Regions from separate parts of the Homo sapiens genome. Here all the other regions are reported to be linked to region 1. Evidence: microRNA targets listed by miRTarBase, many of them from high-throughput screens and not tested one by one. Region 1 holds a microRNA gene; each other region holds the end of a gene's coding sequence.

What was found. The annotated mature microRNA hsa-miR-5582-3p reads UAAAACUUUAAGUGUGCCUAGG and lies in region 1 at 2,969-2,990, opposite strand. An mRNA with a match to its seed (bases 2 to 7 or 8) in the 3' UTR can be bound and repressed. Matches are read on the target gene's strand: a 7mer-m8 pairs with bases 2 to 8, a 7mer-A1 pairs with bases 2 to 7 and ends in A, and an 8mer does both.
Region 2: the mRNA of PDZD8 is a reported target of hsa-miR-5582-3p. Seed matches in the 3' UTR shown: 7mer-m8 at 1,717-1,723 and 7mer-m8 at 3,129-3,135.
Region 3: the mRNA of PTPRB is a reported target of hsa-miR-5582-3p. Seed matches in the 3' UTR shown: 7mer-m8 at 3,205-3,211.
Region 4: the mRNA of CPOX is a reported target of hsa-miR-5582-3p. Seed matches in the 3' UTR shown: 7mer-m8 at 3,135-3,141.
Region 5: the mRNA of IGF2BP3 is a reported target of hsa-miR-5582-3p. Seed matches in the 3' UTR shown: 7mer-m8 at 3,260-3,266, 7mer-A1 at 2,891-2,897, 7mer-m8 at 2,493-2,499, 7mer-m8 at 2,017-2,023 and 7mer-A1 at 1,659-1,665.
Region 6: miRTarBase lists EML6 as a target of hsa-miR-5582-3p. Seed matches in the 3' UTR shown: 8mer at 3,319-3,326 and 7mer-A1 at 2,955-2,961.
Region 7: miRTarBase lists LMLN as a target of hsa-miR-5582-3p. Seed matches in the 3' UTR shown: 7mer-m8 at 3,073-3,079 and 7mer-A1 at 1,089-1,095.

The regions. Positions count from the first base shown.
Region 1 is chr11:46,750,157-46,754,237 of GRCh38, forward strand. It overlaps MIR5582 (microRNA 5582), which reads right to left and starts at 3,036; the gene lies at 2,969-3,036. CKAP5 (cytoskeleton associated protein 5) reads right to left here. Exons shown (of 44, transcript NM_001008938.4): 37 at 3,154-3,341; 38 at 2,479-2,554; 39 at 1,190-1,378; 40 at 962-1,099; 41 at 372-455; 42 at 118-277.
Region 2 is chr10:117,279,937-117,284,017 of GRCh38, reverse strand. PDZD8 (PDZ domain containing 8) reads left to right here. Exons shown (of 5, transcript NM_173791.5): 5 at 1-4,081. The coding sequence ends at 750. Among named protein-coding and RNA genes, the nearest start is that of SLC18A2-AS1, 40 kb to the right of the region's middle.
Region 3 is chr12:70,518,115-70,522,195 of GRCh38, reverse strand. PTPRB (protein tyrosine phosphatase receptor type B) reads left to right here. Exons shown (of 34, transcript NM_001109754.4): 34 at 685-4,081. The coding sequence ends at 707. It overlaps PTPRB-AS1 (PTPRB antisense RNA 1), which reads right to left. Exons shown (of 9, transcript XR_001749196.2): 4 at 1-4,081. Among named protein-coding and RNA genes, the nearest start is that of PTPRB-AS1, 52 kb to the right of the region's middle.
Region 4 is chr3:98,577,191-98,581,190 of GRCh38, forward strand. CPOX (coproporphyrinogen oxidase) reads right to left here. Exons shown (of 7, transcript NM_000097.7): 7 at 2,256-3,580. The coding sequence ends at 3,493. Among named protein-coding and RNA genes, the nearest start is that of CPOX, 14 kb to the right of the region's middle.
Region 5 is chr7:23,308,996-23,313,076 of GRCh38, forward strand. IGF2BP3 (insulin like growth factor 2 mRNA binding protein 3) reads right to left here. Exons shown (of 15, transcript NM_006547.3): 14 at 3,740-3,853; 15 at 1,214-3,465. The coding sequence ends at 3,367. It overlaps MALSU1 (mitochondrial assembly of ribosomal large subunit 1), which reads left to right. Exons shown (of 4, transcript NM_138446.2): 4 at 361-2,734. The coding sequence ends at 548. Among named protein-coding and RNA genes, the nearest start is that of MALSU1, 12 kb to the left of the region's middle.
Region 6 is chr2:54,969,544-54,973,624 of GRCh38, reverse strand. It overlaps EML6 (EMAP like 6), which reads right to left. Exons shown (of 42, transcript NM_001039753.4): 42 at 1,600-3,554. The coding sequence ends at 3,530. RTN4 (reticulon 4) reads left to right here. Exons shown (of 9, transcript NM_020532.5): 8 at 4-62; 9 at 427-1,436. The coding sequence ends at 469. Among named protein-coding and RNA genes, the nearest start is that of RTN4, 79 kb to the left of the region's middle.
Region 7 is chr3:198,038,215-198,042,295 of GRCh38, reverse strand. It overlaps LMLN (leishmanolysin like peptidase), which reads right to left. Exons shown (of 17, transcript NM_001136049.3): 17 at 1-3,729. The coding sequence ends at 3,629. It overlaps LMLN-AS1 (LMLN antisense RNA 1), which reads left to right and starts at 2,829. Exons shown (of 4, transcript NR_046669.1): 1 at 2,829-2,847; 2 at 3,072-3,149; 3 at 3,438-3,548; 4 at 3,633-3,975.

The DNA.
Region 1 (4,081 bases):
TTGGTGACCATTAAGTATTGAGGTTCATGGATATGAATTTAAACTAACCAAAACTTCAGGTTCCTGTGCTAGGAGCTATTTTGAGCTTATTCCTGGAGCTATAACAGGAAACCATACCTGTTGAAGTGGAAATACGACCTTTGCCCTCCCTCTCCATCTCAATCACCCGAAGGCCTCTTTCGACATAGCTCTGGAAGAACTGTGAGGAATTTTTCAGAAATGGTTCAATGTCAGCATCTGAGTATTTCTTCTTATATTCATATAACTCTGCTAGTCCCTGGTGAACAGGAAAAGGGAAGAGGTGGGGATGAATGTTAGTGTCCCTTTACCATAAAGCAGACCCCTATTCTGCTTAACCCTTTCACTCTCACCTCTTTAGTGTTTTCTTTAGAGCCAATCTTCTTAAAAATCTCAGCTAAGAAATCATTCACTTTGGCCTTTGATGATTTTTCATCCTGAAAAGTTGAAAGACATAGGAAGAATTGGTTAGACTTGAGTTATTAATTAGGAACTGATGGTTGGATATGAACAGAAAATATCTCAAAATCTGGGCCTTATTGGTATGTTCCTACAGATAACAGATGCACCGATGATGCAGGTCTTGCAGCAGAAGCACTAACATTCTGTGTTACTGAATGCCTCCAGTCTCAGATTTCCACCTCAACTTGATGGAGAAGGAACTGACATATTCTTTCCATGTTAAGCAGAACTAGCTATTTATCTGGTGACCAATGCCTTAGGCATCTTTCTTGGGGACCAAAAAACACATGGTTATACTTAGTTTAGATTTTAAAATTTCAAGGTGGAAATGGTTACTGCACCACAGCAGGAGACTGATTCAACCAGTCCATGAGCCTTCACCTTGGACCTTCGGAAAGCATATCCTGGTGACCTACACCTTAGATAAGATCACTTCCGGTGTAGCCTCATGTCCCTCAATCTTTCAAGTCAGGCCACTCACTATTCGAGATGCTCCCTTTTCTGTTTCCTTATCAGACTTGCTCCCAGTCTGGTCCATACTGTGCTTCATCATCCGGCAGAGATGGGCCTCCAGCTCAGACTCGTTTTTGTTGTCGATCATCGTTAGGTGGTCCAGGATCTGAGGGAGACACATGCATGACTGATAGCACTGCCATTTCCATGATTTTCTCTCAAGCTCCCTCAGAGACCAGTTGCGATTCTTACTCACCTTGGGCCCTTTTAATTTGCATAAGGTGTGTAGCAGGGTCTTTAGGGTCCTTATGGGAAATTCACTTTTGCATTGCTTCAGTTTCTCTTTGGGGAAGACCTTCATGAAAATGTGGATATCCAGAAGAATTCTGTCTAGGTTAATGCTATTGATGGTATCAGGCAACAGTCGAACCATTCTCCAGAGACACTATTGAAAAAAGAATAAAAGAGTTAGGAGTGACTGAAGAATGAGGATAATTTGTCACCATTCATCTTCCCTAAGCTTTGAGCTCACTTCTAAAAGATGGCCAGGGCTATAAATGTGGCACATCATATCTTTCAAGTTCAGCTGCTAAAACATGAAAATTTTTAATCACTTCTACCATGACACCAGCTGAAGTGTGTCCAGTCATTCATCTAATCATCCATCTCTACTCCTTCCCACTCCCCAGAGCTAGGGGCCATCATTTAACCTGGTAGAAATTCTCTCTTGGGTTTCCTTCGTTCCTGAGAGTAAAGTAGTTCATGTTGCTTAACCAAATCTAATGCAAGGGGACAAAATATCTGATACTAATTCAGTGTAATAACAGTATTACAATGTTATAAATATGTTCATTTGGTCTCTTTCACAAAAGAGACCAAATATCATAGGGCTGTAGATATCTTTTTCCCCAAAATAAATGAAATCTGTTTCAAACTTCTTTCCTTTTGATCCTCAGAGAATTAGTAAAATATTTACAAAATATTTCCTCCCTTTCACTGTTTGAGGCCACGAACTGTTTAGGCCTGAACTTAGAATATAAATTGTAGGAAGGGAAAAACTGAAGACCAATTCATATATATATATATATATATATATATATATATACACACACACACACACACACACACACACACACACACACACGTGTATTATATACATATATAACATATTAAGATATACATATATAATACATATATACATATATATAATACACATATATATAAAAAACCATATATATATTTTTTAAGAGATGGGGTCTCACTGTTGCCAAGGCTGGAGTGTAGTGGTATGATCAAGCTCACTTCTGGGTTCAAGTAATCTCCTCAACTCAGCCTCCTGAGTAGCTGCTACTATAGGTGCATGCCACTGCACCTGGCTAAATTTTTAAAAATTTATTAATATTTTTATTACGAAAAATATATTTTCAGGTGTGACTTGGTTGATTTGAGCCTATGTCTTTCTTAGCTCCAATTCCTCTTTCCCCATACTTTTAACAAAGTGATTGCATCTTTGAAAGAAAAGAGATCAAATCATTTCAACTTCACCTTCATAACAAGCTCTGAGAATTTGGGAGAACTGGCTGTTGCTAGCAGGCTGTCTTGGAGCAAAACAAGTAGGGCACTGGAAGAAAAACCCAACACAACAGCATTAAGTTTCAAACCTGCATTCCAATTAGAATCAGCAGTTGAAAGGGCAAGTGAGATTACTCTATTCATCTAATAAACTGAGAGGTCATGGATCAGGAATTGTCCTGGACTACCTGACATTCAGTTAAGAAAATAAACATTGTTTAAGCCTTTTAAGTCACCACTTGGTAAGTGTAAGGTTTGTGACTCTATTTTTCATTGTCATTGGTAGCTGAGAAAGAATAAAATGTACCTGAAATGTACAAGAAAAATGTAACTGACAAACTTTACAGTCCTATTATAGAAAATGCATGATATTGGCTGGCTAACTAAGTATTTACTAGTTTTAGCTATGGTCTCAGGCTAAAATACCTTTGGTCCATGATGAAGAAGAGTAATAAATCAACTTCCTAGGCACACTTAAAGTTTTAACTGATATAGTTATAACTGATGTAGCTATAACTTTAAGTGTGCCTAGGAAGTTGATTATGATTGTTAGGTTGCCTAGGAAGTTGACTTACGGACATTATGGTTTCTAAGTGTAAACAAAAGCGAGGATGCCCCAGGCTCTATTGGCTGAGAGTACAGATATACCTCAGGATGTTGGTCTGGTCTGACTTCTCCAGAACCTTCACCACCAAGAGGTTCACAGAGCGGATGACCTGTTGTCCTTCCTCAAGATCTTCAATCCGAGAATCCAGCATTAAGGTGATGAGGCCATGCATTAGGTCTTTTAGTACTCCAGTGGAGGCCTCCCGGGCAAGGCTCTCTATCTGAAACAGCTATCCAGACATACTTGTGTCAGGGAGGTGTAAAACTCAATATAGAGAGTAAAGAAATGTGGGTGGCATATTCTGATAAATATTCAATTATGTTGTATTTTTTTTTTGAGACGGAGTCTCCTCTGTCGCCCAGGCTGGAGTGCCAGTGGCGTGATCTTGGCTTACTGCAAGCTCTGCCTCCCCGGTTCATGCCATTCTCCTGCCTCAGTCTCCCGAGTAGCTGGGACTACAGGCACCCACCACCACGCTGGGCTAATTTTTGTATTTTTTTTTTTTAGTAGAGATGGGGTTTCACCGTGTTAGCCAGGATGGTCTCGATCTCCTGACTTCGTGATCCACCTGCCTTGGCCTCCTGAAGTGCTGGGATTACAGGCGTGAGCCACCGCGCCCGGCTATGTTATATTTGTAAAAATTCAGAGTATTAAAGAAAAAACAAAATCACCACACTCCCCCAAGCCTCTAGTAATAGGCAAAATTAATCGGTGTGCTTCTAATTGTGAAATTTTTTGTTTTTTTTTTGAGACAGAGTCTTGCTCTGTTGCCCAGACTGGAGTGCAGTGGCACGATCTCGGCTCACTGAAAGCTCCGCCTCCTGGGTTCAAGCAATTCTCTGCCTCAGCCTCCCGAGTAGCTGGGATTACAGGCGCCCGCCACCAGGCCTGGCTAATTTTTTGTATTTTTAGTAGAGATGGGGTTTCACCATCTTGGCCAGGCTGATCTTGAACTCCTGACATTGTGAT
Region 2 (4,081 bases), not on the chromosome of region 1:
AGGCTGGAAGGACAGGAAACCCTCTTAGGCCTGCCTCCTCGTGTTGATGCTGAAGCTAGCAAGTCAGTCAATAAAACAACAGGTTTGACAAGGCATATTATCAATACTAGTTCTCGTTTATTAAATTTGCGTCAAGTCTCTAAAACTCGCCTTTCTGAACCAGGAACCGATCTCGTAGAACCTTCACCAAAACACACACCCAACACGTCAGACAACGAAGGCAGTGACACGGAGGTCTGTGGTCCAAACAGTCCTTCTAAACGGGGAAACAGCACAGGAATAAAGTTAGTGAGAAAAGAGGGTGGTCTGGATGACAGTGTTTTCATTGCAGTTAAAGAAATTGGTCGTGATCTGTACAGGGGCTTGCCTACAGAGGAAAGGATCCAGAAACTAGAGTTCATGTTGGATAAGCTACAGAATGAAATTGATCAGGAGTTGGAACACAATAATTCCCTTGTTAGAGAAGAAAAAGAGACAACTGATACAAGGAAAAAATCACTTCTTTCTGCTGCCTTAGCTAAATCAGGTGAAAGGCTACAAGCTCTAACACTTCTTATGATTCACTACAGAGCAGGCATTGAAGATATAGAAACTTTAGAAAGTCTGTCTTTAGACCAGCACTCCAAAAAAATAAGCAAGTACACAGATGATACAGAAGAAGACCTTGATAATGAAATAAGCCAACTAATAGACTCTCAGCCATTCAGCAGCATATCAGATGACTTATTTGGCCCATCCGAGTCTGTGTAGCAGACAGGTCTATTTAAGCTTTCAAATGAACAGGGTAAAGTTGCATCTAAAGTACCACAGATACAACCATGTTTAAATCCTCGTATGCACTCTGGCCTGCTTCTCCAGTTACTTGCTTGTGTAAGAACAAAAATGAGAAAGGTTGTTTTCCAGTAAAAACATGACCAGCTTACTAATTGGTTGTTTTGGATTGCATTTATAGCTATGCTTTTTTGGGTTTATACTGGGAATTTATTTTTACTAAATTATTTAACTTTTCTAATTATGTAATTATGTAAGCTAGCTTTTCATGTTTATGTATGTATGGTGTCCCCTTGTGTTATTTTTCTTCCTCTTGGTTTTTGAATTAGTGTTAAATAGAATACTGTCTAGATTCTTAAAATATTTTCATTTCCATCATGGTTATAACAAATTTGCTGCATGCCCAAACTGACAACAGCAATCACTGAGGGAACAGGTTTTGAATCTTTCTTTTGTGTTATGAAGTTTATCGTCTCTACTTGCTTGAGATTTTTGTTATTTTGGGGGTTTGGGGGTGCTTTTTGTTTTGTTTTTGCCAAATGTAACATGAAAGCAGATGCTGCAGCTTTAGTCTGTTATGCTGATTTAGTAAAAAAAAATTTTTTACATATATTGCTTGCTTTCGATGCTTCTGTGAAATTTTTTTCTAAAGCTTTTGTGCAGCTGTATGGTAAAAATATGGTGATTAATTTGAAGAGCTTACATTGAAAGACAATGTAATAGGAAATAAATGTAGATTGCAGTTGGTCAAGAATTTTGTAGAGAGGATAACAAGACTTAATTACTGAAAAACAGTAACATAGCATTTTGAAATATAATCTTTTAAAATATTGATGCTTTCCTTTTAAATGGAAATTTAAATTTTATAATTAAAAGTTTAAACATTTATGATAATTTTCCTCATCAGTTCTCCCATAGGAAATAAAGCATGTGAAAGGGTATTTAAAGTTTTGGAGGACTCTTTTTAAAATGACTGTGTTGATAACTAGTTTGGGCTGGTTTTGTTTTAGAAAAAACATTTTCATGTAGGAGTATTCTGTGAAGGAAAGGAATCATGCAAAATATACTTTTTGCTTTGGCGTCTTACAGTTGTAAAGGAATGGTGATCATTCTGAATACTTCTGTAGTGAGTATTCATTAAGAAAAGAATGACAAAAATAGTATTCATACATAGGAATTGGGACCAGTTCTCTGAAAATGAAGATATACTCACACTGGGTCCATTTTACGGGTCCCAGTAACATTTGACTGAGGGAAAACAAGTAAGCTCGACTGTTGTTGGGGTACCTTAATGGTTTCGGTCTGTTATATACCTATAAAATAGACAAGTATATGTTTGTCCCTTTGTAGGTAACTGCTATGATGATTGCTATATAGTGAAACTGACATGAGTTTAAAACTAGATGGAGCAGCTTTTATTGCTGGCAGGAAAAAGCATGGTGTAATATTAAGGACTGGGGCCCAGGTCTAGACTCCAGGACTCCATAAAAGAGTTTAAGTTCAAGCCCTTCCATTAATGAACTGTGTAAGCATAGGCAGTTACAAAAGGACCCATCTCTAAAATGGGAATAATAATACTTTACCTCCCTCACAGTATTGTTGTGAGGGAAACAATAGCATAACTGCAAAAGTGCTTTGAACAGTAAAAAGATATACAAGTAAAAGGCATTATTTATATGAGTAAGAAAGACATTTTTGAGGGGAGAAAAGTTATTCCACTTTAAAAATCAATAGCCAAGTCTCATGCCTTTTGTTACTTTAGTAAGCGAAAATTTCAGGTACTAAATACCTTTCTTAGCCAAGTTTATAACAAAAACATCTCAGTATACTTCATTACTTATTTAAGCGTGATGTCTTTTTTTTTTTTTTTTTTTTTTTTTTTTTTTTTTTTTTTTGAGACAGAGTCTCGCTGTCTCCCAGGCTGGAGTGCAGTGGCATGATCTCGGCTCACTGCAAGCTCCGCCTCCCAGGTTCACGCCATTCTCCTGCCTCAGCCTCCGGAGTAGCTGGGAGTACAGGCGCGGCTAATTTTTTGTATTTTTAGTAGAGACGGGGTTTCACCATGTTAGCCAGGATGGTCTCGATCTCCTGACCTCGTGATCCACCTGCCTCGGCCTCCCAAAGTGCTGGGATTACAGGCGTGAGCCACCACGCCCGGCCACGTGATCTTATTTTAAAAGAACACTGCTATAGAAGAATTTACACACCAAATTCCCTGAAAGCTAAAGTATTGTTCCATAACTTACACTTGAGGCAATCTGCTCAGTGTGTAACCACTTTATAAAAAATAACTTACCATTGATAACCTGGAAGGTGGACTACTTGTAAGTAGCTGGTGTTTATTGATTAAACCATGGAAGTTTTCATGATACCCAAGCATGTTGCTGAAACTGATGCATTTGAAAGAGCTGTTGAAATAATGCAAAACTTTGGTTTTATAAGAATCTACTCATGTTTTAAAAGTATTTAACTCTGTAGACCACAATTATAGAAAGCTCAGTAATGCTGCTAATGACATTTGTAAACTATATCTGTAATGTAGTGCAATATTTTTATATTTCACTGGGAGAGGCAGTAGAGACATCATAGTTGTACTTTAGTGCAAGTGGGGGAACACTCCAAATAGCCTAGAGTATAGTAAGGTACAAAGCTTCAATGAAAAAAGCTGTATTATATTACATTACTGATGTAATCTTGCTGCCATGCTATGTATCAATAGCTAAAAAATAATAATAAAGACTACCACAGAAAACAAGAATATCTTCATTTAATGAAATCTTTAAAAAAGGTGATTGCTGCATCTCTATGGAATTATCTTCTGGTATAATTTGGCCATGCAGAAAAGCATAACAAAGTCCACTTTTCCTAAACAAAATTGCTGTTTTGCAGACTGCCCCAAAACATTTTTTTACTATTGTTTCCTTATGGATTATCAAGTTTATGGGTTTCCTTTGGCTATGTATTAGTAATTAGACTTTAAAATATATTTTCTACATTAGTATTAGCTGAGTGAATGGCTTAGACAAACTGAGCAACATTTTAGCATTATTAGCAATCATAATAGGCTATACTTCTTCATATCAAGCCTTATATTCAATATCAGAAGTACTTGAAATAAGTGGCTATTTTGTGATGCTGGGAGGAGAAAACACAACCTAAAAATTTTGAGGGGTACTATCAAGTTCTAAATGTATAGCTGAATTTTTTTTAAAGCAATTTGGAAATATTTGGCTCTTAAAAATAAGATAAATAATAAAATGTTAAGTCCCCTAAAAGTGAATAAATTTTAAATACCTACTTTTAAAAATAC
Region 3 (4,081 bases), not on the chromosome of region 1:
TCTTCAACAGGTAGTGTCTCCTAACCTTTTACTTAGTTCTCTCTACCACCCAGCCTAGCCAGTATGTTAATGAGTTAGCATCTGTAAAGCACAAATAAAGAGCTACTATTTAGAGGAGTCCTTTGTAAATCAGATAATTATTTTGTATTATGAATAATTACAAATTACACCCTAATTGATCTGTATAGTAAATTAAGGTTTTTGCATGGGAGATTCCTTAAGAGGCTTCAGTATGAGCAAGTTCTGAGGGATCTTGGAGGTTCCTTTGTCTTGTTTTGACTTAAGAATCTTTTTTTAGAGTAATCTTGAGCACTCCTGAAAGAAGCTAACTATGGTATAGAAAAGGATAACCACCACGTAGCTGAAGGCTAAGATTCAGGTCCGAACTCTCGAACTAACTAGCTGTAACAAGCTGTGTAACCCTGAGTAAGTTACTCTGCCTCTCTGGGCCTATGGCTTCATCCATAAAAACAGAGGCGATGGGCTAGAATCACTAGTCCCTTCCAAGTCTAATAATCTGTCTTTCTAAATGGAATTACCTGGTCCCAATAGGAATGGTCTCATCTTAAACTAGGTTGAGCTATATGTTTCTGCTGGTCTTTCACATTGGTAATTTTCATAAACAGCGTAAACAATTATGACACACCCTGCGGCAGTCTCTAATTACAGTGTTCTTCCTTTCAGATCCAGTCTATTCAAGGCATTGAGAATGTACCTGAAGAGCTCCTGGATAAAAATTATTCACTGTGTGATTTGTTTTTAAAAACTTGCTTCATGCCCTACAGAGGTGCCAGCTATTTCTGTTGATACTATGTATAATTTATTAATCTGGAGAATGTTTAAAATTTTATATAATTTAAAGGTAACAGATATTATTGTACATAGTTGTATTTTGTAGTTTCTTCTGTAAATATGTATTTTTCATAATGTTTAATATTAAGCTTTATATAATACTATTTTTCCACACTAAAGTGTTCATGACTTGTTCTACATAAAACTAATTCAACCTGTATGACAGGACTACTGGTAAAATGCATATGGAGGTGGTGGCAGAGACAATCCTTCAGGCCATGTTTTCTACCTGTTTTGATATTCACTGGACAGGAAAAAGGGCAGGGCTAGAGAGAGCAAATACTATGGCTAGATTTGCTGCATTGCTGTCCCATGAATCTCGAGAGCCAACAGACATGTCCTAACTTGCTATTAGGACAAATGTGACAGTCAAAAAAAGGATTAGAGGGAGGGAGAAAAAAGAATTAAGCAGTACCAAAGCTGAACTAGATGCTTGTGTCTGAACTAGTTGCTCTCTCTCTCCTTTCTCCTTCCAGGGATTCAAGCCAAAGTGGTCAGCTCAGGGATCATGTAACTTGCAGTGCAAGCCCAGGATGGTAGGATGCAGGGTTGAGGGTTCTGATAGAGAATGATTCCAAACAGAAGTGATGAATTCCTTTTGTTAATAAGATGCCAGCTATACCCAGACTGGAAACATAACATGCAAAGCACTATCTACAGTGATTAGAGATCCTTTCATTGCATTCATGGTGTGGAGTGTGAACATCCACACCCATACTGTAATGTATTTATACACACTAGTTTCTGTCTCATTTTCAGTGGTCTCCATTCCTAGAAAAGTCACAATTATCCATTCCTACTTGATTTCCCATTAAAAGAATATTATGGTAGCAGATTGTGCCCCTCATTAAAAGGCTTAATGCCAACATTTTCATAGAAATGACTACAAACATCATATATAGTAAATTTAAAAACAATAGCAAAAACAAAAACAGTGGTCTTCAGTAAAATTTTCAAAACTTCTTTTAGTAAATCAATGAAGTCAAAATGTCAAGTAATCACCCAAAGTTGCATTTAATAACAAAAGGCACTACATACTGTACCAAGTTTATCTTCAATATTTGTGCCTTACTTACTTTGACTATAACAAATTCCAATGAGTCAGAAAGTATTTCCTTCATCAAGGTCCAGTTCCGACAGCATTCCTGGGAAAAATTTGAAAGGAGTTTGTACGGAATCTTCATAGATACCTGAGAAGATGAGCTGGAGATGTTTGCCTTTTTCACACTACAAATTTTTCTGTAATAAACTTGGGAATTAGAGGTCAAGTTTGTTGATGGCATAGCTTCCTTTGCATAAAGAGTATATTTCTTTTCAAAGTATATATTTTTGTAACCTACCATAAAGTCCGTAAGTGAATACAACGAATGTAATTGACATAATAATTGAAAATCATTGACTATACCTAAAATAGTTCTTTATAATTAAATAACTCTACACCCAATCTGGAAATTTTTCCAAGGTTATTTGAAGTTTACAAAAATGTGAAGCATAATCATAAGCTTCAAAGATTCACAGTTTCATTGTGCTCAATGCTCTTGTGAAATGACAGTCTTAAGCTCTGATTCTGTATCAAGGAACTAAGTGAATCTTCTGGAAATGAAAAGGAACAACATATGTGTAAGTGCAGTAGATGTACCACCAGCGAGAAAATAGAGGTCAGAGATCTACAACGTGTGGCATCCATTAGAAATCACCTTTCCTACATTGAAAAGAAAAAAGAGAAAAAGCAGAATTTTACACTAATGTTGCTTGATGCAAAGCACATTAATGCTTGGAAGGATACATTCATTTTCGACTTTTCATTCACTCAGAAAACTTCTAGTAAGTATCTGCAACCTGCTAGGCACTGTTCCAGAATCTACACATTTCTACTCACATAAAGAGAATCCTCATAAAGTTAGGATTGTTGTTACTACCTTCAATTGAGCTTAAAAGACAGCCTCATCAAGGGAATGGGATAACTGAGCCAGTCTAGGACAGTGGTCACCTTCCACAGGCCACACACTGGAAAGTGCTAATGCTACTTTAATAGCAAACCTCTGGATCTAGGAGAGAGAGCAATTAATTGCACAAACCAGGAGTTAAAACCATAAAAAAAACCTATGCATCTGTAATAGTAAATAACACTCACGTACTCTGGCAACATCTAGGGTAGTATCAGAATTATGTAAATGGACATGACAGGGAAAAATCGTAGGTTTTTTTAGTCTAATCCAACCCAGGAAATGTTTATTCCTACCCTACACCTAATTTTAAACCTTCTTAGCAACAAATATTTCACTATTCGCTCCTACTCCTGGGAAGACTAAATATATAATTGACTTATTTATTAAATTTAGGAGAAAAAAAAAGTTTTCCTTGACATTCAGCTCTATTGGATTTATTTCCATTTAATTGCATCATGTGTTATGTCTTGGTAAACACTCCATTTCCTGTCTTGGTGGGCATCCTGTCTGTGTACCTGTGCAGTACACTTTAATCATCAAGACTTCAAAGTGCTTTTGAGCTATCAAATCTTGGGAGAGTCCCATCTAGCATCTTAATAATTATTTTTCCAAGTTCGTTATAATTAACTCCTTTAACCTCATCTCATTAAATCAATTTTGTATTGTCATTCTGTTGTTCTCTGGAAAGCAGCCAATTGTTCAGCTCTTGAATCAGAATTTTCAAAGACTCACCTCTCTTACCTGGGCTTGCACATATTTGTCCTAAGTAATTCTCTATCCCTTAAACCTCTGAGTCCCTCTGTTTTATTACTTGCCCCACTCCTCCTACTTGAATATGTTTGTTTTCCCAGTTGAATGTGATTTTTATCTACTGTTCATATTATCTTTTATACCCATGAGTATAATTTCATAGTCCTTTCAGGTTCCACATCATCAAAGAGATGACCATAATTTCACTTTTTTTTGAAATGAAGTCTTGCTCTGTTGCCCAGGCTGGAGTGCAGTGGCACAATCTCAGCTCACTACAACCTCCGCCTCCCAGGTTCAAGCGATTCTGCCTTAGCCTCCCAAGTAGCTGGAATTACAGGTGCCTGCCACCATGTCTGGCTAATTTTTGTGTTTTTAGTAGAGATGGGGTTTCACCATGTTGGCCAGGCTGGTCTTGAACTCGTGACCTTAGGTGATCCACCCACCTCAACCTCCCAAAGTGCTAGGATTACAAGAGTGAGCCACCGCACCTGGCCAATTCACTTTTAAATACTAAAAGGCACACAGCACAC
Region 4 (4,000 bases), not on the chromosome of region 1:
GAGACTGAAGTGCACAGAGAAATGTAGAAGATAAGCCTGAAACACGAGGTAGGAGTTAAATGGTGGATTGCTTGAATGTCAGACTGACTTTAGAATTCTGTCTGGAGAGGAGATTCTTTGACTATTTCAGCAGGGTGGTGATAATGGGACCTAGGAAAATAATTCTGAAGAGAGGGAAAGGTCAGAGTGCCCAGAGGCAGGGAGAGCATTGCAAAAGTTCAGATGAGAAAGTATGTGAGACTAAAGTAGGGTGGTGGCAAAGGGCAGAGGAAGGAAACCAGGAGCCATTTCAAAGGGGGACTCAACAGGAACTAATTAGGGCAATGTGGAGGGTTGAGTCCAATCTATTTCGTGGTTTTGAGTGTGGAAGGCTGTGTGGAGGTTTTGAAGATGACTGGGATCTAATTCCCTACCACTCGAATCTGGAACTGTCCTTAATGACAGACTTGTCAGGAGTCCAGTGGAATGTGAAGAAAGTGACACTACATAACCTCAGTGGTTAGAACAGAAAACCACCATACTGCCTTTGCCTTTTTCCATGGAATTCGTGCTCTGAGCCACCCATAGGCAATGCAGCCTGCAGTCCAAGATGAGCTGAGCCTTTGAGTCATCCTCACCTATGTACAGACATGCAAGTCAAAAACCTGCAGAAGATTCCTGTCTCTAAATATTGTAACAGCAAAAGACACATGGAAGGATAAGTCATAAAGAAACATTTGGCTTTTCAAATCTTGTACTCCTTAGCGTGCAGAAGCACTTATCTCAAATACTCTGCTGACTAGGAGGGTCAGCAGAGTACAGTGATGAACAGAAAATAGTGGTTAAAAATTTGCTCCAGAGAATTGACATTTCTCCCCTCCAGACACCCTTTATTACCATGAACCTGCATGCATAAGACAGTTAGGTGTTCAGGCCATCTGGAGGTGCACTGTGGTCTTCAGGTAGACTGAATTAACACCAGTAAGAAATTGAAAGAGAAATTCACTTTGAATAACAGTAGGATAATCTGTTTTCCAGTAGTTATGCAATTCTTTTCAGACATAGTCTAATCCATAGTAGAAATACGTGGTTATTGAAGAACTGAAAACAAATGCACAGAAAAATTTTATCTTCATTTACCCGCCACAGCTTTAAACACAACTAAATAGGCTAGCATTTTAGCATTATATCATCACTATGTAGTGATTTTCTATTTTTTAAAAGCTAAACTGAGGTTGATCTGAACATTTGTTCCTATATGCCTATATTTTTCCTAGTATTAGATTTATTGAAGTATTATTCACATATACAATAAAATTCCATTTTAAGTTCAGTGAATTTTGATAAATGTATATACAGTCTAGTAACCATCACAATCAAGATGTAAAACATTTAAATCACCTCAAAATACTCTTTTGTCCCCTTTCACAAATCTGCATCCCCTAACCCCTGCCATCCATTGATCTGCTTTCTGTCATTAAAGCTTTGCTTTTTCTAGGTTTTCCTATAATGTAGTCATATAGTAAGTACTTTTATGTGTGGCTTTCACTTGGCATAATGTTTCTGATGTTCACCCATGTTACTGTCATTAGCAATAGTTATTCCTTTTCATTGCTTAGTATTTTAATATACGCATATATCACAAGTTGTTTATCTGCTCACCTGCTGTTAGCCATTTGGGTTGTTTCTAATTTTCAACTATTGAATAAAGCTGCTATGAAAATTGAGTACAAAACTTGTATTTTTCTTGAGTAAAATACCTAGGAATGAGGAACTATGGCATTAGCATAGCTGAGCCTTGAACAACACAGGTTTGAAGAGTTTTGCTTCTTCGCAGATTTTCTTCCACCTCTGCCACCCTTGAGAGAGCAAGACCTACTCTTCCTCTTACTACTCCCACTAAGCCTACCCAACATGAAAACAATGAGGATGAAGACCTTTACGATGATTCACTTCCACCTAATGAATAGCAAATATATCTTCTTTCTTACGATTTCCTTAATAACATTTTCATTTCTTTAGCTTGTAAGAAGAGTATATAATACATATAACATAAAACATGTGCGAATTGACTATGTTATTGGTCAGGCTACCAGTCAACAGGAGGCTATTAGTGATTAAGTTTTGGGAGAGTCAAAAGTTATACAAGGATTTGAAACTGCATGCAGTAAGGAGGAGTTGGGGCCCCTAGCCCTAATGTTGTTCAAGGATCAACTGTACTAAGAAATATATGCGTTTTCCTATATTATCCTGGCAACAAAAAATATAAATATTTCTTAGTCTTATTTAATAATAAAATTTATTAGCAGATCTCTTGTAAGACAGTTGAAGAATTCATACATTTTCCAGCCCCAAAAAGGCCACACAGAATCACAAACATTCAACGTGTTCCACGATAATGATATGTATGAGATGCTCTTCCTTATAAACTTTATTACGAAGCAAATAAAATAATACATTCATAATATATGAACAAAGAAATCATACATTAAGAATCCTGTTGTGATTTGCTCTTAAGAGCAAAGAGCTGCAGAATCTCTAATATAAAAAAGAGGACATTTTCAATGTGTCCATTTTCCTAAGAAACGTGTGTATGAAATGCCTCCAAGTTTCTCATACTATATATACTTGCTTTAAAGAAGGAAATTATTTCTCATTTCATTTTCCAAATGAGAAACATTGCCTAAATTCATGACATCCCTAGGATTATTCTTAGTCTCAACTTCCACACAGAGATGTCTGAAATAGAAAACTCTTAAGTATCAGAATTCAGGGATATAAGCTTTCACATTCAAAAGTGCAGAGAATCCCAACATTAACAAACAATGGTTCCACAAAAATCAAAATTACAACTTAGACATCTCTAAAATAATAGTAATGTCACTTTAGAGTTTACAAACTACAGAAATAACTGAATTGTAACACATGCAGAGATTATTTCAAGTGCTTCTAAATACCTATTAGAAAAATGTGTATCTATTTGACAATATTATGTTCTCTGGAGAAAGATATATAAGGATTACAGCAGAGACTTCAGTATTGACAAAGTAAAATTTTTACCTTCAAGTTGCATTCTAAAATTACTATGAAGTCTCAACTTCACTGAATTAATGAAAATAAAATATATTCCACGACAGATTTTTGTGGCACAAATGAAAACTTTAAAAAATACATGAAACAAAAACAAGATGAGAGATTTCCTGATACATATAATACTATTTATATTCCCTTATCTCAATACTTGGAAACTCAATGTCCTATTTTGTAAACTAGTCATATAAAATGACACTAGAAGTATAAATGAGGTTTAATCAATTGACTCTGACAATCTGCCATCTCACCATTCATCACTGACAGCATCCAAAACATGTTATCATCTGCCCACGAGGTAGGGTGCAGAGTGGAGAAGACTAAGGCACGGGTAACTGCCACACAGTGGCAAAGTGCCGACCAGTGGCATGGGGAGCACACATCGTGTGCCCTCCAAACCCCTGCACAGCCATTCTGCCTGCATCAACGCACCCAGTCCCTTGGATGGCGTAGAACTTCCAGAATTTCAGCTTCTTTGGAATTCTCTGAGGGTGAATGCATGTACTCCCATCTATGCATGTCCAAAACAAAAGCAAAAAACGTCATAAAAAATGACACACATACCTCTTTACTTAAAATAAATGAAAAATAAAATCCTAAGAATAAAAAAAAAAAAAGCCTTATACTTCTTTGTCTCTACTGTGCCTGATGTGCCTTGTACCAACTTGACCTTTAAAAAAACTATTTGCCAAACAAATAGTTTCTTAACAACTCTTGGGTATGCTTTGGCTAGTATTAATATCCCAGAGCCAAAATACACCTTTAATATAAACCAGGGTTTCATATAGTGTAGAAACTCAGGTGATCCATGGGCAAACCTTCTTTAGCTTAATACTTATGCATACCTCTTCTCAGAAAAACAAATAGGCAGAGAAGGTCCATCTCACCTCCTAGCCACCATGACTCAGCCTGTGTTCTCTCTCCCTCTAGT
Region 5 (4,081 bases), not on the chromosome of region 1:
AAACATTCTTGGATAGTCAAAACAAAAGGCAGTCAGTGTTTTTGCACAAAAGATGTGCAGAAGTGTGTTACCCATGGAGAATTGTCACCGAAGAGAATCCTGACACCATTAGTCTCTTTGATAAAGTTACTATCACCAGCAATGTTATATATTGACATATGCCTCCTGTAGGTACACTGAGAAAGGCATAGCATCACTTCTGTGGTATTTTTGCTGGGATGGAGTCCACAGTGATGCTAATCTGGGAACCACACTTGAGAACCACTGCTTTATTCCTAGAGTTAGCCAGTGTGTGTTGTAAGGTAAGAATAAAAGCAAATGAACTATTCCTTCATTGTATCTCTTATCTGTCCCTGACAGGCAGCATGGTGATTCATTTGATGCTTCCAGAAACCAGAGAAATCTATGAATTAGAGAAATTATGGACCCTACGTTCTTATGATGACCAGTTAGCTCAGATAGCACCTGAGACAGTACCTGAAGACTTCATTCTTGGAATAGAAGATGATACTTCATCTGTGACTCCAGTGGAGTTAAAATGTGAATAAAATATTTTATGCACTGCGTTAGTCATTTCAGATTTGGATTGAGTCACTTATTGGAAAATACAGCTCCTAAAGTCCGTCTCCTTGGTTAGGCTGCTCTTAGGACAAGGCTTGTGTACCTCATGGGCACTCCTGCTAACTGGCATGCAGAGACTGTCGATAAGTGAGCTATACCTGCAACCAAAAATCAGTACATTCTACCCAAAACTTATGACACGCTGCCTTTATCCTGGAAATGTCATCAGAATTTCCTGGAGTTAGCACTGGCTCCTGTGCTTGACTTCTCTGCTCAGATTTTTATTAATTTAATTTAGCTTAAATGTAAATCTTAACCCTGTTTGTTTAATGGAATGGCAAAAATTTTAAAAAATAATATAAAACATAGCCCACTGGTCTTATTTTTATACTTTGAGGTGATAATATTCTTCTAGGAGGACTTCTGTAACCCTTCCAGAATACTCCAGTAACACAAGAAAGTAAACAAAGTGTTTGTTAGGAAAAACTCTGAACGCTCTAGTTCTTAGTTCATATGCAAGAGTATTATCAAGGTTCACATTAAGTACCATGGCTGGACATGGTATAACAGAAATCTGCGTAGAGTTTGAAAAAAAATTCAGAACATTCCCATTCAATTGAAAACCAAAAATAAAACATACTACACAACAAGCTGCACCTAAATGATGAAAAAATTTATTCTGCGTCAAGGTATCTGGAAAATGAAGCTGCATTTGGGGCACATTATACATGAGGAATGATCCATATATGGTGAGTACAAAACTCAATTATAGAATTATTTCTTAGCTAGTACCAGATACTCCAAATTACAAATGCTTAAGTAAAAGTAAAATATGATTTGCCATACTAAAAGGCTAGAAGTGAAATATGACAGAATTTAAACCAGCAGATATAAATGCAGCACCTATGTGTATATTTTTAAAAAATCAAATATTGGGGAAAAAAATCAAATACTGAGAAAAGCTCTGGCCTTAAACACATCTTACCTGAAATCCAACCAGAAAGCCAGTCCATGATTTTAGCAATTTTAATTCATTGTATGAAAAAAAAATCATGAATGCTAGGAGAATCCAGTGACAAAAAGGGCACTTTTTTGGTTAAAACTACAAAAGAAACTTGTTTTCAGAGAACATTAAGGAAAACACTTTAAATCATTTTCAAAATGTCTAATTGATCTTCAGAAAAACATCTAGTCTGTATAGAAATTCATCTTGAAATAAGAATGAGGCAGTGATTTTTTTTTTAAAGGGTTATATATATGTCCTTTAGATCAGTGTAACATGACTGTGATCATCTTACAAACAAAACTCAAAAAATCAATTCAGAGAGCAGCGTGGCCTTGGAGACCACCCACACCCAACACAATTGTACGTACTGGGCTTTGCTGTCAAGGAGTGAGCAAATGAGTTCGTTATCAAAGGTCATATGTTTTCACAGTCATTCAAATTATATCCCAAAAACTTTTCTTGTATTCTCTATCTTTTGACTTTTTTTTCAAAGAACTGATTGCACAGTATACAGAAATCCTGTTATACTTTACTACTTAAGGTGGAGTCTAATTTTTTTTTTTTAATTTATCAGTGCTTAAAAATCTTCAAAATAGCTTAGTGAGGCTCATGACAGTGCTGGCCCCATGGAAATGTAGCCTTTTGTTGCGTTTAAACACTGTCACACCATCTATGACTGTCCCATTGGTCTGAAGTGTAGTGGCAAACTAAGCATCCTATAAGACAAGCTAAAGCTTGCTTTTTGCCAGTCAGTTGAAAGTCTTGCATCTCTTCACTGATGCACTTTCTTTAGGTATTGATAGTCAGAAGCACAAAGCATTTATTATGCATTCAATCATGTAGCTAAACAAAAAACTGAAGTCTCCTGAAGCCATTTAAACCAGCCGTTCCAAAATCTCCTGCGACCACTTTGTTAGTACCGTCAAAAACTTTCCCAACTATAAATGAAAGAATAAATGGTAGTGCTGCTCTCCAGATACTAGGCACTGCTCCGTATTTTTGAACATTTGATTTAACTAATAACTGTGTCAAAAGCCTCAAAAAACCCTGAAATTAATTTTCCAGCTTTACTGTCACCAGCCAGAAGTAAAAATCTTAATTTGCCTGTTAGCTGATTGCTGTTAAATTTTAAATTTATTTTTTAAAAAACGGTTGGACTTCTATCATTATAAAGTATATAAAATTTTCAAAAAAAAGGAACAATTTTGCTTTTCATTGTATTACTGAATACCTGAGGTAGTTGAGTAAAAATGCACGTTTAATACCCCTGCCAACACCATTCAGCACTTCCCTTAGGTTACTCATGTTAGTGTTAGGTAAAAATAAAACTGAGAACAGTTTTTCTATGCTAATGGCTTAACATTTAAGTTCCTGTGATAATTATTCTGATCCAATTTTAACAATTGGATTTAGGAGCAATCTATTTGATGAATTTAGTGAAAGCATCATTAAGCCAATTTCTGGCATTATGGGGGAATATTAAGAAGAATTAGAATATCTGTTATACTGTGAGACTACAACAAAGGGAAGTGCAGAGCTCTTCTCTTTCCCTCCCTCCCCCACCCTTTTTTTGTTTGTTTGTTTGTTTGTTTTAAAGCTGGGTGTCATACATTTCAGAGAGCATAAAGTATACATTCTCACAGAGACAGGAGTTCAAAAGTTGCCTGGTCCTCAGAAACAACTGGCTAGGTAAAAACTTGTGCATGTGATTCTGGATAGGGGGTCAGCGCCCATCTGTTGGTTAAGCAATCTGTCTTTGGTTTGGCATCTGCCTCTGTGGTGGGCTGTTTCCTGAGCCTTTACTTCCGTCTTGACTGAGGTGGTCCACTTTGCAGAGCCTTCTGTTGTTGGTGCTGCTTTACCTGAGTCAGAATTTCCTGAATTTTTCTCTGGGCAACCTAGAAAAGGACAGAGCTTTGAAATTCCACTTGATCAAAAGCTACTAAAAGTTATTGTACTCCTTCATTTCAACAATTTCAAATAGAAATCCATTTGATGATTAAAGATACATACTAGTCAGTTTGCTAGTAGTCTCTGAAATCACCCGCTAAAAGGGAGATGAAAAGTCTTAAGCATCAAACAACCTTAACTAATTCTATCAGGTAGGAGCACCTGTGGGAGAATTGCTTCCACGTGAGAAAGATACAATAGCTTATTTTAGAGCCCACTTGCCTGGCAAGCATAGAAGTGACCAGTTATTTTGACAACCACTTGGTCATTCTCATCAGGTGTCTGGTCACGAGGGACAACAACTTCTGCACTTGACAAATTCTGAAGTTCATTCACCTGAAAGAGATAAATATAAATCACATTAAGTGGCAGTTTTAAAACCTTACTTCCTAAGCACTTACTGTGCGCCAGACAGTGAGCTATGTATGGCTTTACAAATTTCATTTAATCCAGTGGTAATTCCATGAGGTTATTAGAATTATCCCCACTTCAAGATGATTAAGGCTCATCCAAAGAAACTGATTTGTCCAGTTATACAAGTGAATGGCAAAACCAGATTCAAAT
Region 6 (4,081 bases), not on the chromosome of region 1:
CAGGCACAGATAGATCATTATCTAGGACTTGCAAATAAGAATGTTAAAGATGCTATGGCTAAGTAAGTATTTAAAATCTGCAGTGTTTTTACTAGGATAAGGTGTGCTGGATTGTGAGAACAGTATTTTCATATTGCAGGCATAATGAGTAACAAATCTCTATCAGACCTTAAGTGTGACTTCAGAGTTGCCAAAAGATTGTTTTTCTAACATTTGGACCATTCGTTTCTGGGTTTATTATGTGTTTAAGGCTTTGTTTAAATCTAATTCATGAGGCCAAGGTGGCAAAATTATAGCTTAGAATTAGGCAGCTTTAAGGATTTCATTTATTGTATTAGCTGAATAACATACAAGTAGTTCTTGGAAGATGGTATTTTAAGCAGCAGCAAACAAAACTGATATTTACATTGACTTTTTCATTTTCAGAATCCAAGCAAAAATCCCTGGATTGAAGCGCAAAGCTGAATGAAAACGCCCAAAATAATTAGTAGGAGTTCATCTTTAAAGGGGATATTCATTTGATTATACGGGGGAGGGTCAGGGAAGAACGAACCTTGACGTTGCAGTGCAGTTTCACAGATCGTTGTTAGATCTTTATTTTTAGCCATGCACTGTTGTGAGGAAAAATTACCTGTCTTGACTGCCATGTGTTCATCATCTTAAGTATTGTAAGCTGCTATGTATGGATTTAAACCGTAATCATATCTTTTTCCTATCTATCTGAGGCACTGGTGGAATAAAAAACCTGTATATTTTACTTTGTTGCAGATAGTCTTGCCGCATCTTGGCAAGTTGCAGAGATGGTGGAGCTAGAAAAAAAAAAAAAAAAGCCCTTTTCAGTTTGTGCACTGTGTATGGTCCGTGTAGATTGATGCAGATTTTCTGAAATGAAATGTTTGTTTAGACGAGATCATACCGGTAAAGCAGGAATGACAAAGCTTGCTTTTCTGGTATGTTCTAGGTGTATTGTGACTTTTACTGTTATATTAATTGCCAATATAAGTAAATATAGATTATATATGTATAGTGTTTCACAAAGCTTAGACCTTTACCTTCCAGCCACCCCACAGTGCTTGATATTTCAGAGTCAGTCATTGGTTATACATGTGTAGTTCCAAAGCACATAAGCTAGAAGAAGAAATATTTCTAGGAGCACTACCATCTGTTTTCAACATGAAATGCCACACACATAGAACTCCAACATCAATTTCATTGCACAGACTGACTGTAGTTAATTTTGTCACAGAATCTATGGACTGAATCTAATGCTTCCAAAAATGTTGTTTGTTTGCAAATATCAAACATTGTTATGCAAGAAATTATTAATTACAAAATGAAGATTTATACCATTGTGGTTTAAGCTGTACTGAACTAAATCTGTGGAATGCATTGTGAACTGTAAAAGCAAAGTATCAATAAAGCTTATAGACTTAAAATATGCTTTGGTATTTTCATTTCATGAAATTGCAGCAGATTAAAAATGCACACAGTGGGTAAACTGCTTCAACCAGCGAATGGTAGCTTGTGCTTTTAGAAGGGTTTTTTTCAGCTGATGGTGCAGCTGTTTGTTTGTTTACTGTGGAAACAAAAGTCAACAAATGTGTTTACATAATCAAATTTTATTTGACACATAAAATGTTTAAGTGATGTGTTTTATACTTTGAAAATAAATTCATGCACCAATGTTTTAACTCACATATATCATACAGTGCAGGATTTATGAACATACATAAAATCAAAATCATACCATATAAACGTTTACAAATAAGTTTTTCATGACACACGGACACTATTGCTCTTTAAATATGGTTGTACATGTCATCATTAATCGATTCATTGTTCTTCCACATGGTTATTTCAATGCAAGATCCGATCAGCATGAAGAGTCTAGTACAAGATAGGCAGACATGGTTATCACTCTGCATCACCAGTCACATGGTTACAGAAAACAGAATTGGGACTGCATAGGGACTCTACTGCGGGCCCAACAACCTATTAGTGGATTGATGTAAGGCATTAGTAAATTGGCATATAAAAATAGCTTAATGAGTGATCTAATCCATTTAGAATGCTGAAGCACTTCTGTGGTAAATGTTAGTCTATTCTACAATTGAAAATGCCTCATTTTACCTTTTCTCTAAACTGACAAATGCAAGTAGCCAGTAACTGTAGGTCTAGAATTTTCGTTCACTGACCAGAAGGACTAATAGGCGTCTATGTGCTCAGAACCACCAGTCCCGCACCAACTCTCCTTTCAGTGAGCACTGTCAGCCACATCCTGTAGTCACTGGTCAGCTACATGGAAAGTGTGACTGAGGGGCTTACGGATGGCTTCTGGTAAAGATTGTCCAAGTCATATTCCGTCATACAACCAACTCCAAGGAACTCTAACTCACTTTATAATTTTGATTTACCAGCTATTCCTTGGGTTTACAATTTGTTCTGCAGATAATTTTTTTATAATCTGGACTTGACCTATATAGTTCGCCTGAAGCAATCAAATGAAGTCACCTCAACTCCACTCAGGGTGGTACACCAAGGTGCAGCCTTGGGTTACCCTCATTTATCTTAAGATTTAACGAGATAAGTCAGCTCATTCTCATAGACCTTCCTGAGCCTTTTTCCCCTTCCATTTTGTAGTAGAAGTTTGTTTAACTTGAATTCTATTTTGGATTTTGTGGGTTTGGCATGAAACACAATGAAAACCCATAATTCTACCCTGTCCCGAACTTCAATTCCTTTGCTGCTCACCTTCCCATAAGCAGGTAACCGATGTCTTTCATTTAGGAAGCCTTGGCGTGAACACAGGACAAGGGTGACACACTGAATCTGCTAAGGGTCCTGCAGCCCTCCTCAGCTTTGAGGTTTTAGCACCATATGGAGAAAGGAGAAATTGGTGGGAGGTGAGACAGCAGCCCACACAACTGGAAACTTTCAAAGGCACTTAATGGATATAAAACTCTGCAAATGAAACATTTAAAAATTAAGTTTCTCAACTCCTTTATACATGGCTCATTTGGTTTTGAAAGCTAAACTGGAGAACAGAGGCTAGCGATATTTCTAGTACTTCGGTGCATCTAACTTAGGCTGTCTTGTTCAACTTATTTGTAAAAATGAACATTCTTGAAGTATATAGAAACAATAGCAAAACATCTTTGTAAAAGTTTTGATGCAAATTAAAAGCTACATATTGGTTAGGGTAACCGAGGCTTCAAAATTCGTCAGCGGGCTACATTATCAGATAGGATTTCTTTGTCAATGTAGTTAGTATGTATACTGTTTAGTCTCAGGAACAGAGGCAAGCAGTCTTTAACATTTTAAAACTTGACCTTCCTTCGTGGCATCACGGTTTTGGAGAGTCCAGATTATGGGAGCAGTTGTGTAACTTCTGCAGCGTTTTGAGCTTGTGCATCCGGGGCAGCATGGTAGGCATTTCCCAACGGCTGGTGGCAAGGAGGCACCTCAGCATGGCCTCTGCAGTTGCTGGCTGGTAGCAGCAGCAGCAATAACATAAGAGGCTTCTGGCATTTTACAGACATCGCCACACAAATACACTGAAAAGGCAGATCAAACAGTCATTTTGCATAGCTGGACATCATACTTGTGTCAAGTGGCAAAAAACAATCTTGCCAAGTGCTCAAAAGTCAAGCTCGGGTGATGTATTGAACATTTTGACTTCAAAAGGTAAACCAGGGATCTTGCCACCAAATTAAGATCTATTGCTTTTCTTAAAAGGTCTGTTTTTTTCAGTTGAGTTCTGTTTGGTTCTTTCAGCAGTTTGAATGTCTGTGCTAAATGTTGGTCCGTGAGGACTTCTGGCACTTTGATATCACACTCTCTCCTGTTACTATTGAAAAGGTTTATCACCTCCACTTGAGTCAGAGAGCCCTTTTGAGTGTTTAGCACAGAACCAGGGATCACAGCATGCTCCCATGCCTACAAAGGCCTGCAAGCCCTGCACGGTTAAGGCCACTTCTTTTTTATATTAAAACAAGTCTGTATCCCCTGCATTGGGGTGACCAATTCATTTACGTCTTTTACTCCTAGCTTGTTCACAATTGGGTTGGTGCTGCTTTGAAGG
Region 7 (4,081 bases), not on the chromosome of region 1:
TTGGCCTCCCGAAGTGCTGAGATTACAGGCTTCAGTCACCGCGCCCACCACTACCATATTCAAAGTGACTAAAATGTGCCTCTTAAAATCTCTGACAGGTTCAGTGTCCTTCTAAGTCTTGCTGGGTACACTATGCAGAATCAATGATGAGTAAAATCATATTCAAGCCTTACTGAAGAGGACGGGAGACATCAACACAGTTACCCTGAGGAACTCAAGACTTTATCCATACTTTATCCAGTTTCACATTTGTCCAGAGAAAACACTGGGCGACCAGGTTCCCAAGCTTAATAAATATATATACAAAAAATGTCATCTATAATATTTTCTTCAGAAAGCCATTAGTGCAAATATAATTATATCAATAAAAAATAAAGCAAAAATATATTTCAAGTATAAAAAGCACCATGCTCAGAAACAATACTACCTAAACGGTGCCACTACACAACAGTCAAAATATAGTCGAACCTATCACTGTGACTCTCAAATATATGATTAATTCATTGTATTTTTGGTAAAATTCTTCATTCAGCTTTGCAGGATGATTCATAATCATAAGAAGTATATGTTTAGATTATTGTAAGTTTCTTTAAAAATAGACTCTTTGCTTTGACTTTTAATTTACACAATTTAAAGTATGTACAACATAGGCAGAAAATGAGCACTGGCCCGCAGACCATTACGCAGGTTGAGCATCACTTACTGAAATGCTTGGGACCAGAAGTGTTTCAGATTTCAGACTTTTTTTTGGATTTCGGATATTTACAGATACCTAATGAGGTATCTTGGGCATGGACCCAAGTCTAAACATGAAATTCATGTTTCATATATAACTACACACACTGCCTGAAGGTAATTTTATACAATATTTTTAGTAGTTTGTGCATGAAACAAAGTTTGTGTTAAGTACTTGTATGTGGAATTTTCTACTTGTAGTATCAGGTCAGCATTCAGAAAGTTTCAGATTTTGGAGCAATTTGGATTCTGGATTTTTGGATTAGGAATGCTCAACCTGTATTAGCTTCTTTTTAGTTAAGTTGACTATGTTTGAGATTCCCAGCTTTTCACAATGACAAATACCTCCCATTTAAAACTGCATGCAAATACATACTTTAAATTTATGCATTTGAAAAAAAAGCGACTTTCCTCTGTGCTGGGGTTGCTGTTGGCTCTAGTGCCAAATAATCAGAATTAATTCTTAGTAATTATGTTGCTTTGCTCACTTAGCATAATTTCTTCAATGGAGTACTGAATAGCTATATGCTGAATGGACGAAAAGCAGGGAAGGACGAGGAAAGGAGGAACAGAAGGAGTCTGTCCGAGGGTTGTGGTTACAATGCCATGGAGGAATAGGAGGAGTCTGTCCGAGGGTTGTGGTTACAATGCCATGGAGGAATAGGAGTCTGTCCGAGGGTTGTGGTTACAATGCCATGGAGGAATAGGAGGAGTCTGTCCGAGGGTTGTGGTTACAATGCCATGGAGGAATAGGAGGAGTCTGTCCGAGGGTTGTGGTTACAATGCCATGGAGGAATAGGAGGAGTCTGTCCGAGGGTTGTGGTTACAATGCCATGGAGGAGTAGGAGGAGTCTGTCCGAGGGTTGTGGTTACAATGCCATGGAGGAGTAGGAGGAGTCTGTCCGAGGGTTGTGGTTACAATGCCATGGAGGAGTAGGAGGAGTCTGTCCGAGGGTTGTGGTTACAATGCCATGGAGGAATAGGAGGAGTCTGTCCGAGGGTTGTGGTTACAATGCCATGGAGGAATAGGAGGAGTCTGTCCGAGGGTTGTGGTTAGAATGCCATAGGACTTCATTAGCTTGAGAGAAAGAATGGGCATCGCCTATCATTCATGAATATATTTTTTCTTTTTTCTTTTCATATTCTTGTTAAACCTCATCTAGCCATTAAAAATTACTAAATGGGGCTGGTAAGCTCTAGTACCAGTGTAAAATTGCTTCTGGGGACCGGAATCTATGTAGTAACAGGAGGAGTGTCAAATGCAGAAGGTAAAGGATATTTAAAGCGAAGGCAATCTTCCAGCTTCTGTGGACTGAGTCTTACTTAAAAGTGGTACAGTGGACGCTACTGGATAGGCTCTACACCAAACTTATACCTTGCTATTAGTACACAATTCAGACCATCCTTCTTAAACATAAAACCATTTTCAGATGTTAGAAATTCTTCTGCAACAATTTCTTAACCCATTTTAAAAAACTGCATACCCGTCTTTACCAGAATTTCTTTTTATCTTCATCGGTCACAAAGGAATAGTTGTGTTTTTGTTGTTTCACAGTTGTCTTAAGTATTATCTAAAACAATACAATTATTTTTTTTCTGTTTGCATGTCTTCCATGTTTTTACAGGGCAGAGTATTTTACTCTCTCGGCTTCCACATTTTTTCATGTCATTATTAAACTCATGGAGAATACAACCAGAAGCTGAGCTCTGAAGAGGGATGAATACAGAGGGCTACCAGCACAGTGATAGCAGTTCTGGAAGCTGGGCTCTGAGGAGGGATGAATAGAGGGCTACCAGCACACTGACAGCAGTTCTGCCGTAAACTGCCACATAGCTGGCAAAAAGGGCAAGCACGGTTAAATCATAAGATTTAATGAAACATTATTTAAAAAAATTCTTTAGAACAATGGGAACAGTGAATTAAGTTTACTATATACCAGCCATTAATTTTTTTTTTTTTAAGATACAGGGTCTAACTCTATCGTGCAGGCTGGAATACAGTGGTGCAATCATAGCTCACTGCAGCCTTGAACTCCTGGGCTCAAGCGATCCTCCTGCCTCAGCCTCCCAAGTAGCTGGAACCATGCCTGGCTGCCATTAAATTTAAAATAGGTATAATAATGATATGTAGAAATCCCAATTCCATTATTTTCTATAACTCAAAGGACAATTTATACTTTTGAGGACAAGATCTCCAATTCTAATCTTGCAATAATTGGCTGTTGTTTAAGTGACTGCAGTATATGGATGATGAACTTTCCCATTGTTGTATGTTAATAAAAATGTTGAGGTATGTAATCACTCTGAAAATTCCACCCATTATCCTATTTTCAAAGGAAAACTTTGGGAAGATTACAAACCCTGAAAAATGAAGACTTGGTGGCTTGCAGTTCCTTCTCCTTCTCCAAGATGAGGTGGTTGGGTTGCTGAAGAAGGTGGTTGGTTTGCTGATGAAGGTGGTTGGGTTGCAGATGAAGGTGTTGAGTTGCTGATGAAAGTGGTTGGGTTGCAGATGAAAGTGGTTGGTTTGCTGATGAGGTGGTTGGGTTGCTGATGAAGGTGGCTGGGTTGCTGATGAGGTGGTTGGGTTGCTGATGAAGGTGGCTGGGTTGCTGACGAGGTGGTTGGGTTGCTGACGAGGTGGTTGGGTTGCTGACGAGGTGGTTGGGTTGCTGATGAAGGTGGTTGGGTTGCTGATGAAGGTGGTTGGGTTGCTGATGAGGACAGGCTGCTGTGAAGTTCTGCTTCAAGGTCTGATGGTCGTCAATTCTTCCAAGCCAAAGCCAGGAATGCCACTTCTACCATCTGCATAGGTTGGCACTCACTCAAACTTTGTGCTTTGTTCACAAGAACATAACATAAAAGAATATCTTGAAGATCCACTTTTCCATTCCTAGTGCCATATACACAGAAGAAATCCAGCCAGCAGAGGAAACAGATTGCCTAGCAGAAGCCAGAGGGTGACCACCAGGCTCGAGGAACAGGAACAAAGATCTAGAGTTGAAAACAAAAAACTGACTTTCTATAAACAATTTTGGGATAAATCATACCAATTAAATATTGACAGATGAAGAGCAGTGATTATTAAAAAGTAAACAAGGACCACCTTGAGAGCTAAATCAAGAGCAAAACCCAGGTATAAAAAAGTTTTTGTTTCTTTTTTAATGGAGGAAAAATATATATGGAGGAAGAAATGATGTATCCACTATGTCAAGGTTAAAAAATGGTATCCAAAAAAAATTGCCTTGGGGTAGTACCCCAGCAAAGATAAAGATCTTGGTTATTCTGAGATGGGGTGAAGAACTTTCTTCTTTTATTCTTTCTTTGTACCTTCTAAGTAGGGTGA